2 linked regions of the Homo sapiens genome follow. The protein of the gene in region 2 interacts with the protein of the main gene of each other region in a pairwise test. Each region holds a gene or a part of one and is shown on either strand. Other genes may lie near its edges. The genes, in order: AOX1 and ABCA1.

Region 1 (7,298 bases), on a different chromosome or scaffold from region 2:
ATATTTAAAATACTAACAATATTAACAGTTAATCATTATTAATATTTACTATTTAATGCTATGTGCCACGCTTAGTTATAAGATCTTTATGTCTTTTAACTTATTTAGTAATCACTGCTATTCAAAATTTTCTGTAAGCTCAGGTTTTTCATTAATGTTGGTTTGGATATGTTTAAGTACAAATGGCTCTCTTTCATGGCATCTAACGATATTGATTCAGCATTATGTTTCAACTGGCATTCACCTGCTTTATTTACTAGTTAGTAGAATCAGCAATAAATTCCTAGTGATTTGTTTTTTGTCCACTAGACTTCGGGCTGCTGTCAAAGTAAAGAAAATGGGGTTTGCTGTTTGGATCAAGGAATCAATGGATTGCCAGAATTTGAGGAAGGAAGTAAGGTCAGTGAAATGTAAAGCTTTTATAAGGCTTTCTCAGGACATGAACAGGAGCCAACATACTCTTAGGAAGAACAAATGGCTACCCAAGTTGACTAACTTGAGGTATGTCAACATGTGCCCTCTCCCATTCTCACTCCATCTCTCTATAAAAAAAAATTATATCGCAGCAACTTTGTCCTCATTCCAGATATTATTCCCATTTAAATACAGTTATCTACAGGAGGGAAAACACATTGGTTCCTTAGTGTCTCTTAGCTTTTAAAAGCATTTTTTCAAGTTATTTTTCAAGGGCCAGAAGTAAAGTGGAGATGTCATGAAAATAAAAGAACAGGTAGAACAAGTAGAGACAGGAGAGGTTCAGGGAGCCGTTCTTGTTCCAGCTGTGTCTGCGGCTGCTGCCTCCTCTTCTACTGTCCCCAGACTCCAAAGAGAAGGTACAGGGAGTTGAGGCCTCCAGAGGCCCATTGGCATCAGCACTGAGTTGCTGATGACAAGGTTTGTGTTAGAGCCCTTGGTTTGGAGCGCGGGGATTGTGGCTGGCCAGTGGACTTTTTTGTCGGTTTGCTGTATCTGACTGTGTATCTATATCTTTTGACCTTATTCCACAAAGGATTTTAAAGTTGCTCGATAACAGTAATTTCTGATATGTTCTCTTTTTAGACAAGTCCAAAACTCTTCGCAGAAGAGGAGTTTCTGCCATTGGATCCAACCCAGGAACTGATATTTCCTCCTGAGCTAATGGTGAGTAAAGCAATGTTGAGCTCATCCTAGAAGAATTCATGGTGAAATATCAGGAAGGGTATTTGTTTATGGGTTCTCTCAAAAGCTGATTGGCAAATAGGTGAGGCCTCTCTGTCATCCTTAGCTCAAGGTCTAAAGAGTATGGACTAAGGAAGAGGAGGAGGAATGGGGGTGGGGTCCCCATGGGGGACAGCTGAGTTGACTGTAAGAAGCAGCAGATAGCTTCTATAAAATCGTGAAATCACAGTGTTTGTAGGTATAGACATGTTTCCTACTTTCACTTTTGCTGAAGTTTATTCCTCCATAGAATGATTTAACAAGATTCAGCATGTTACTATATTTGCTAACATTAAAATGATGTTCTTTGAGACAAGAGCACCAAAGGGAGACAGACCAAGCAGTTCCCAGGAGTAAAGAACCATCGTGCTTTTATTCTGAATTCTAATTCCTTGTAAAGCTCTACTTTTAGGTCACTTTGTACTTTATTTTTTAGAAGATATGTATTTTCTCATTCTGTATCTACAGTGCTAATGATTGAGTGGAAACAGGTGGAGATGGCATCATTGGGTACCTTGAATCCCTATTGCTTTTTCAATAGATAATGGCTGAGAAACAGTCGCAAAGGACCAGGGTGTTTGGCAGTGAGAGAATGATGTGGTTTTCCCCCGTGACCCTGAAGGAACTGCTGGAATTTAAATTCAAGTATCCCCAGGCTCCTGTTATCATGGGAAACACCTCTGTGGGTATGTAGAACCCCAGGGATTTTTTATAGGGAAATTGAGAAAAAGGGCTTGGGATGGGGCCGGGGTGGGCTGGGGAAACTTCATATACATGTGTTCTCAGGAAAAGCAGTCTGAAATAGCATTTTTAATCATTTGAGCTAGACTTCCTGAGCATTGCTCAAGAGACTTTCTAACTGTTATTAAGTAGATTCCTCTTGCCTCTTATTGGAGCAGTGTCAAGAGTTGTACCGAAGGGGCTTGCTCCATAGCAAACCAGCAGCAGGAGCTTCAGTGACAGCTGTCCTGTCTTTCCTTTTGGGGACTAATCTGGGCCTCAAATTTCAAATTGCTCTTTGTTTCCTCTCTCAGGGTGTCTCAATAGGTATATGTTTTACTTAAACAACCGCTACAGGGTCTTCCTGTTGCATCCAGTGTGTGCTCAGCTTGAGGAGCAGCCCCTAGAGTCTTCCCAGAGAGAATTTTGAACATGCCATATGGCCCAAGTTTCAAGGTTGACAATTCCAGAGTCTTCCAAGTTTGATGAAAATCTATCCAGCCATTCTCTCTGTATGTGATTTGGCAATAAACAGATGAATAGAAAGATACAATATTTTTAGATATTTAAAGATATTAGTTTAATAATAATTTCAAATTTAAAAGGCAGTTAGTTCCTTTATTCTAGTCTTATTGATTTTTTTTTTTTTTTGATCCTTTAGGGCCTGAAGTGAAATTTAAAGGCGTCTTTCACCCAGTTATAATTTCTCCTGATAGAATTGAAGAACTGAGTGTTGTAAACCATGCATATAATGGTGAGTTCTCAAGTCCCTGTTTTCTTAGTTAAGATGCATTAATCAATTTATTTACCTTGCCCAGCAGACAAGCAGAAAAAGAATGATTCCTAATTATAATACACACAGAGATTCTCTTCTTATAAGAATGATATGTTTGTTGGCCACATAAATGTCTTCTTTTGAGGAGTGTCTGTTCATATCCTTTGCCCATTTTTTGATGGGGTTGCTTTTTCCTTATAAATTTATTTAAGTTCCTTGCAGATTCTGGATATTAGACCTTTGTCAGTGGGTAGATTGCAAAACTTTTCTCGCATTCTGTAGGTTGCCTGTTCACTCTGACACTAATTTCTTTTGCTAGGCATAAACTCTTTAGTTTAATTAGATCCCATTTGTCAATTTTGGCTTTTGCTGCAATTGCTTTTAGTGTTTTAGTCATGAAGTCTTTGCCCATGCCTATGTCCTGAATGGTATTGCCTAGGTTTTCTTTTAGGGTATTTATGGTTTTGGGTTTTACATTTAAGTCTTCAATCCATCTTGAGTTAATTTTTGTATAAGGTGTAAGGAAGGGGTCCAATTTCGTTTTCTGCATATGGCTAGCCAGTTTTCCCAGCACCATTTATTAAATAGGGAATTCTTTCCCCATTGCTTGTTTTTGTCAAGTTTGTCAAAGATCAGATGGTTGTGGATGTGTGGTTTTATTTCTAAGGTCTCTGTTCTGTTCCACTGGTCTATATATCTGTTTTGGTGCCAGTACCATGCTGTTTTGGTTACTGTAGTCTTGTAGTATAGTTTGAAGTCAGATAGTGTGACGCCTCCAGCTTTGTTCTTTTTGCTTAGGATTGTCTTGGCTATACAGGCTCTTTTTGGTTCCTTATGAAATTTAAAGTAGTTTTTCTAATTCTGTGAAGAAAGTCAATGGTAGCTTGATGGGGATAGCATTGAATCTGTAAATTACTTTGGGCAGTATGGCCATTTTCATGGTATTGATTCTTCCTATCCATGAGCATGGAATGTTTCTCCATTTGTTTGTGTCCTCTCTTATTTCCTTAAGCAGTGGTTGGTAGTTCTTCCTGAAGAGGTCCTTAACATCCCTTGTAAATTGTATTCCTAGGTATTTTCTTCTCTTTGTAGCAATTGTGAATGGGAGTTCATTCATGATTTGGCTCTCTGCTTGTCTATTGTTGGTGTATTGGAATGCTTGTGATTTTTGCACATTGATTTTGTATCCTGAGACTTTGCTGAATTTGCATATCAGCTTAAGGAGTTTTTGGGCTGAGACGATGGGGTTTTCTAAGTACACAATCATGTCATCTGCAAACAGAGGCAATTTGACTCCCTGTCTTCCTATTTGAATACCTGTATTTCTTTCTCTTGCCTGATTGCACTGGGCATAACTTCCAATACTACGTTGAATAGTAGTGGTGAGAGAGGGCATCCTTATCTTGTGCCAGTTTTCAAAGGGAATCCTTCCAGCTTTTGCCCATTCAGTATGATATTGGCTATAGGTTTGTCACAAATAGCTCTTATTATTTTGAGATATGATCCATCAATACCTAGTTTATTGAAAGTTTTTAACATGAGGAGATGTTGAATTTTATCAAAGGCCTTTTCTGCATCTATAGAGATAATCATGTGGTTTTCGTCACTGGTTCTGTTTATGTGAGGGATTACATTTATTGATTTGCATATATTGAACCAGCCTTGCATCCCTGGGATGAAGCCAACTTGATCGTGGTGGATAAGCTTTTCGATGTGCTGCTCATCATCACTGATCATTAGGGAAATGCAAATCAAAACCACACTGAGATACCATCTCATGCCAGTCAGAATGGTGATTATTAAAAAGTCAGGAAACAATAAATGCTGGCAAGGCTGTGGAGAAATAGTAATGCTTTTACACTGTTGGTAGGGGTGTAAATTAATTCAACCGTTGTGGAAGACAGTGTGGTGATTCCTCAGGGATCTAGAACCAGAAATACCATTTGACCCAGTAATCCCATTACTGAGTATATACCCAAAGGATTATAAATCATTCCACTATAAAGACACATGCACACTTAGGTATATTGCAGCACTATTTACAATAGCAAAGACTTGGAACCAACCCAAATGCACATCAATGATAGACTGGATAAAGAAACTGTGACAGATACACACCATGGAATACTATGCAGCCATAAAAAAGAATGAGATCATGTCCTTTGCAGGGACATGGATGAAGCTGGAAGCCATCATTCTCAGCAAACTAACACAGGAACAGAAAACCAAACACCACATGCTCTTACTCATAAGTGGGAGTTGAACAATGAGAACACATGGACACAGGAAGGGGAACAACACATACCGGGGCCTGTTGGCGGGTGGGGAGCAAGGGAAGGGAGAGCATTAGGACAAATACCTAATGCATGCAAGGCTTAAAACCTAGATGACAGGTTGATAGGTGCAGCAAACCACCATAGCACATGTATACCTATGTAACAAACCTGCACATTCTGTACATGTATCCTAGAACTTAAAGTAAAATAAAAGAAAAAGAAAATGGGGACAGAAAGCATAAAAAAAAAGAATGATAACATTCTGGAGGAAGACTGAGGGAAGAATTCTCTAAAGTTAATCTAAATACTAATTGTCTGAATAGTTCAGTTTTTACTGAAGAACTTCTTCTGTCTGCAATATCAGAGAAATGTAACAACTATTCAATGAAGGATACGGTGCTAAGTGCTGGACAGAAGATAAAGATGAATATAACACAGTCTTTGCTCTTTAAAACCACAGTAGCGAGTTTATGTATTCAACAGCTTACAGACTGGTTTTTCTACTCCTGTAGAGGAAATTGATATAATGGCAATGATAAGAAGCAATAGAAATGTGGGTTTGCAGTACAGCCTCTGAAATCTAACTCTTGACAATGGCATATATTAGCTGTCAGATCTTAGGCAAGTTACTCAACTCTCAGTTTCTTCATCTGTGAAATGGGGCTATTAATATCTCATAGGTATGTTCAGATTTAAGGAGATTATCTAAAGCATTCAACATAATACTCAATAGAGTGAGTGTTCAAAGAATTCAGCCTTCATTACCTCCATCAACACCACTTACATCACTACCACCACCTCTATCATTACCCCACCTTCATCACCACCACCACACCACCCCCTCAACTGCTATCCCTACCACCATCGCCTCACCACCACTTTCATTACTACCATTACCTTCATCACCATCACCACCATCACTGCCCATCACCACCATCACCAATAAGCAGGGCAGCATGTATCCAGTATAAAGATTCTATGTCTGTAGCTTTGGTCTAATGGACATTTTCAGATCAGCAGTGATCGCACTGTGTTATTTACAAATGACTTCATTTCAGGACTCACCCTTGGTGCTGGTCTCAGCCTAGCCCAGGTGAAGGACATTTTGGCTGATGTAGTCCAGAAGCTTCCAGAGGAGAAGACACAGATGTACCATGCTCTCCTGAAGCATTTGGGAACTCTGGCTGGGTCCCAGATCAGGAACATGGCTGTATGTATCTGATGACAGTAAACTCTGGTATGCATCCCTTGGGTGACTCTCCCTGATGAATCATGACATTTTCATTCTTTTGGAACAGACAAAAAAAATAGTTCTCCAAAGCCTTGCTTAATCCTTATTTTAGCACTTGCTTTTTTATGATTACATAAATGAAAATAACTCATTATTTTTAAAAGTCTTTAGGGGGACACATCATTAGCAGGCATCCAGATTCAGATCTGAATCCCATCCTGGCTGTGGGTAACTGTACCCTCAACTTGCTATCAAAAGGTAAGTGACAGCCCCTACTTGGAGATTATTAAGCTGTTTCTCTACCCCTTTTTCTCTCTGGGGAGGCAGGAAATCCAGTCTTGAAAATGACTTTTCCCTATAATATCAATACATTTCTCTGCTTTTCTGGATACTGGAAATTTTGTGAGTCTTGTCTTAATAGCACAGGCTTTCTTCCCCTGTGTCTTTCTGGTTTTTTGTTTGTTTGTTTGTTTTTCCTCATACTGGTCACCCTACACTGGACATGTTTGTGTTGGTTAATGTCCGGATGTGATCTGATTATTGCTGGGAACTACATACTATTGAGAACTATTGGGTCCCTTTGTTGAAGACATTCTCCAGGTGGTACAGGAGTGTTGTGGCACCCACATCGTGCTTTGAGCTCACACTTAATTTATCATTGATGGAAACATACAGGTCTTTTTCAGGTGAAAAATGATTGGGCCTCATTCTATATTTATTTACTTGATTTTTGTTATTAAAACTAAGTCCACAACATCTAATTTATCGCTTCTTCCAACTTGCTTGAAAATTATTAGGAAGTTCTAATTGGTCCTCTGTAAATTTGTGGGGTTTTTTTTCGTTAAAAAATATGGACTAGTTTTCTATCATCTGCATTGTTAAATACTTACTCTTCATACCATTTAAACCATAAAACTATCTTTTTTTTTTTTTGAAATGGAGTCTCGCTCTGTCACCCAGTCTGGAGTGCAGTGGCACAATCTCAGCTCACTGCAACCTCTACCTCCTGGGTTCAAGCGATTCTCCTGCCTTGGCCTCCTGAGTAGCTAGGACTGCAGGCATGTGCCACCATGCCCAGCTAATTTTTGTATTTTTAATA
Region 2 (4,948 bases):
ACAGCCATTCCTGAGGTCACAAATAGAGACAGCCTCTTGTACTTCCTCAAAAGGACTGTTTGACAGGGATTCTTCAAGTAGCAAAATAAGCAGACATCTCTTTCTGAAACTGATTCTTAATGAGCTATGAAAAATACATTTACATTTATCAGCACTGCTCATATGTTGTCTGCACAGCACTTATTACAGGAAAAAAGGAAGGAATCACCGATATTAGTATCATTTCTGTTTCCATATCTACTTCGCCTTCCTGCTCACCATTGCCACCACCCCCAGCACCTTCCCAGTATAACTGCTACATTGTGTCCTTATATTTTTGGTTGAATAAACAAAAGGACACTGAAGGCTGCCTTTGTAGCTTCCCCTATACCAAGTGAACATTTATTAAATAAGCTCAGCTACAGAGCATTTTCAGAAATCTCAGTGCAGCTTCATAATCATTAAGCAGAATATTTATCTAAAAACCTCTAACACTTAATACCAGTTACTCAGTATCTTAACCAACATGAAAATACAAAACAACCTTTTATTTTCAAGTAGTCCCCTCAGTTCTCTTTTATGATTAAGGGAACATTTGAATCTTTTCTAAAGTTTTTCCTTTTGATCCAAATCACTTCCCCTCTACTTTTCTAATGGCTTTATAACCCTTCAACAGTAGGTGGTGCCACAAATGCACAAAAGTAAATTTCTGTAGACCAACAGAACTGTCACAGCTTTATTTTGTGACTCATTATATTACAACATAGAAATATGCATTTTAATACTTCATATAAAGTTATTGACATACAAAATTTTTTTTCTTTTTTCCTTTTAATGAAAATGATTTAACTTAGAAATCTGTTGTGAAACTTTTGTCTAGTTTTGCAATTCTCAGATATTCCAGTGCAAAAATAGATCCCATTACAGACAGCGTAAAGTGCTTGGAATGAGGGCCAATGATGAACAAAGAGCACAAAAACAGCTTCATCTTAGGGTATAAGAAGGGATAATAGCATACCTAAATCCTTATGGAAATAGAAACATTCTAAGGGGGATGCAACAATTTTGAAAAGAATTAGAGCAATATTTCTACAGTATTACATTATTACTAGTAGATAATAACAAGGGTACAAATTAATGTCTCAATATCAAAGTGGTTCAGTATTACATGACACATGGCTCTTTGGAAAATATTTTACCTGATATATACAACCACAAGAAGAAAACACAGACAAATGGCTTTAGTCAATGATTACTATACAGTGAATGAATGATGTGCAACATTTAATAGTCACAAAGCATTTGCTTTCAGTACAGATAATGAAATACAGTAGTGTGAGGTTTGGTTGTTTTTTAACAATGAATTGTGCTGGGCATTTATGTATAGAGGGCTTATTATTTTCTTCTGTATTTCTCATATTCACAGTTGTTAATAAGTTTTCTGAGGTGTCCCAAAGATGCAAAAGCAGAAATTTTTGAACACGTATTTTGAGAATTTCTGAAACTCACATAGGTACATTCCACAGGGAATATACAGAAATTTTGCTTGATTGAGTATAGAGTTGGTAAAAATTTCTACCACAATTAGGTTTACACAGGAAAATGTAAAAAATTACTATTTTAAAAGGTAACACAGTATTAATGAAGATGTATAACTATAGATTGTTTCTAGCTTCAGAAGAGGTCCTTTCAATCTGTATTAAAATGTTGTGTTTTCTTCAAAATAGTTCACAGTGCCTTTTGATTTTTTAAAATATGGCCTTGAAATCAGAGGAACCGAAGTAAGGAGTTGCTCATAGATTTACTATAATGAAGAATTAGAATACGATTTTAGTAAAATGAGGAAACCATAACTTTGATTTTGAAAAATATTAAATGAGGAGAAATTATTCTATAAATTCTGTATTTTTGAAGATACTGTAAAATGCAACGATGCCATATCACTAGTTATTGGAAATATGCCTTCATTACTTATATTTAAAATCAATATTGACTTTAACTTCTAAAACAATCATTTTTTTCTTTTTCAGCAGTGGGTTATATAATATTCTGTAAATTTAAAAAATATAGAAAGATTAATTTGAAATCTGAAGTCTTACACCTTTAGCGTTAATATTCAAATTCTGGAAAAAGTGGAAGAAGTTAGTAATGATATTGAAAGATCACTTGAACTTCCCCAAACAATAGTTCTCTCATATTTTTCTTTTCTCTCAAGACAGTTAACAGTAAGTATTAGTGAAACAGTATTTTTACAAATGTTTACTGACTAGAAAAATAAGACTGGGTTAGAAAACTCTGAAAAATGCTCCATATGGAAGTATTTGTTGTTTTTATATTTTTCTTGACTAGTGATTGAAGAGATGAAAAATTTGAGACTGTCAGATTTAATGGGGTATCCAATATCTGCAAAGCCAATTATTTGAAGGTACTAAATGCCATAAACACAAGTTGTGTTTTTCAGCAAGTTTTCAAGCTAGCTGTTTTCCCTGTTGAAGAATTCATTGTTTAGACTTGTGACCCTTATACTTTCTTGGCTTTTGCATTGTTGCAATTAAAAAAAAAAAAAAAAAGGCTGCCCAGTATTGTTACAGTGGGCTCCTACAACCACAAGACAACCTATATTTGTAAACCAGTGAGCTGAATAACATGGCACAGGAAGTGTACTGAGACTTAATATCTCTCTAGTCTTATACGTACGTACATACTCTTTCAGCTACAGCATACACTCAAAAAATATTTGATTGATGAAGTGAGATTAAGAGTATCCTAAATGATCTGAAAGAAACTCAAATATAATGTCATGAGATCCTGACCATCACATTGCTTTCTAGGCACTAGTCATGACTGATATGCAAACTTACATAAGAAAATAAAAATAGTGGGGCAGTGGCCATACTCCTCTATACCACAGGGTTCTACAAAGAGGCCATTCTAAGGATTCAGAAGTCACTGATAGAACTTAAAATTCCAAATAACATTAAAAAGTACAAACATTTTTGTCAAAATACAACTCCATCTTTTCATTTTCTAGATTAATTCAAAAAGCCAGAAATAATACACTTGTGTCAGATAAACATCTTGAGATGCAGTGTACCATGTTAGCAGACAGTCAGGACAAATGGGCACAGGCTTCCCTAGGTTTGAACGCACAATCTCTTTAATCCCATGCCCTGGCTTCAGCAGCTTGCAGCCCCAGCAGTTTGGCTGTTGATTCTTTGCCTCTTACCAGGATCTAAGTATATTTAAGAGTCTCATAAGGATGACCCTGTAGACCCATGGCTCGAAGCATAGGACAATATAACAATGGAACCAAGTTTCCCGTGCCTGGAGACACCCACATTTTTGTTGCATGTTACTGCCACCAGAACAGCTTATCAGAGGGAATCAAAGCAGGATGTTAGCCACGCATGGCACCATTCTGTCAACTGATATTCAATGTTGATAGACTCTGAGCAGAGCAGCTTTCACAAAAGTGAGCATGACACACCATGGTGCTTCAAACTTTCTGAAAAACTTGGCACTAATAACTCTGGCACACTCATTGCCAGCAATGGATGTGTCACCGGGAAACCAGTCTCCTGGGCATGGCATGGCTTAGTGAATGAGGATGTGCATTACCTTTTGATTTTGATCAATAATCGCTGGCCATGATTACTTGATGAATTATTGTTGCAACCCCAATGAGAATACACAGGAACAAAAAAAAAAAAAAAAGTGTGAGTTCAAACCCATATGTCCATTGGGTTCCATAATAGAGTTTCACATAGGTATAGGTAAAAAACTAAATTCAAGTCTTTCACTTGAGAGCCATACAAGACATAGGCTACAAAGGCACTGCCCCTGTAATGGAATTTTGTTTTCATTGCATTGAATTGCATTGCATTGAATAGTATCAGTACAGTATCCAGTTTACTTCTTCCCACATCAACTTCTGGCTCTTTTCTCCACAACACTTCACATGGTGCAAAGGAAAGTCTAGTTCCTCTTTACTTTCAGCCACCCCGTATGAACAGGATTCTTCATACATAGCTTTCTTTCACTTTCTCATCCTGTAGAAAAGATGTGAGAACTGCAACGTCCACTACTGTCTGGTTTTTGTGTAATGAGAGGTCTTTTAAGTGGTCATCATCACTTTGGTCCTTGGCAAAGTTCACAAATACCTGTTAAAAGATTAAGATGGACCTTTATAAATACCACTCAACTTGCTCATTCTTTATTCTAGTTCTATTTTTCCAGATGTTGAAATTAGGTCAAGTAGGAGCATACAGAATTACATAAATGGATTAACTAGAAAACTGTGTGTGAAGGAGGGAAGAATACTTGAAAAAAGCAATAACAACTTAAAAATAGACTTTTTTTCCCCCCTTGAAATGGGGTCTTGCTCTGTCCCCAGGCTGGAGTGCAGTGGCGAGACCTTGGCTCACTGTAACCTCCACCTCCTGGGTTCGAGCAATTCTCCTGCCTCAGCCTCGCAAGTAGCTGGGACTACAAGTGCGCACCACCATGCCCAGCTAATTTTTGTATTTTTAGTAGAGACGGGGTTTCACCCTGTTGGCCAGGATTATCTGGATCTCCTGACCTCATGATCTGCCTGCTCCTCAGCCTCCCAAAGTGCTGGGATTACAGGCATGAGCCACCACGCCCGGCCAAAAACTGACTTTCTATATCGCCCCCCACCCCTACATCACCAACTGCTCAGTCATCCATTTACTTTGGCACATACGGTCTTGATTAAAGGGAAGAGGGAAGAAAATATTTACTGAGTACTTCTTAAGTGTCAGGACCTATTTGGTACTTTTTTATCTAATTTAAATAGGATTAGGCACCAAGTAAAATGCCTGGCCCATGGTAGGTGCTCACTAAATGGTAGTTTTTATGGTTATTATTACAGTAAATTCTCACAATAATCCTATAGAGTACATAGGCATCATCTCCCTTTTCAGGTTCAGAGAGGTTTAGTAAAAAGCAT

What was found.
Region 1: the proteins of ABCA1 (region 2) and AOX1 interact in a two-hybrid assay, tested with the Homo sapiens proteins (one study listed by BioGRID).

Annotation. Positions count from the first base shown.
Region 1 is NC_000002.12:200,602,958-200,610,255, forward strand, and holds part of AOX1 (aldehyde oxidase), read left to right. Parts: intron 1-309; coding exon 310-399; intron 400-1,059; coding exon 1,060-1,140; intron 1,141-1,738; coding exon 1,739-1,883; intron 1,884-2,578; coding exon 2,579-2,671; intron 2,672-6,026; coding exon 6,027-6,178; intron 6,179-6,363; coding exon 6,364-6,457; intron 6,458-7,298. UniProt on the Homo sapiens protein: Oxidase with broad substrate specificity, oxidizing aromatic azaheterocycles, such as N1-methylnicotinamide, N-methylphthalazinium and phthalazine, as well as aldehydes, such as benzaldehyde, retinal, pyridoxal, and vanillin.
Region 2 is NC_000009.12:104,780,317-104,785,264, forward strand, and holds the end of ABCA1 (phospholipid-transporting ATPase ABCA1), read right to left. Parts: intron 4,140-4,948; coding exon 3,999-4,139; 3' UTR 690-3,998; downstream 1-689. UniProt on the Homo sapiens protein: Catalyzes the translocation of specific phospholipids from the cytoplasmic to the extracellular/lumenal leaflet of membrane coupled to the hydrolysis of ATP.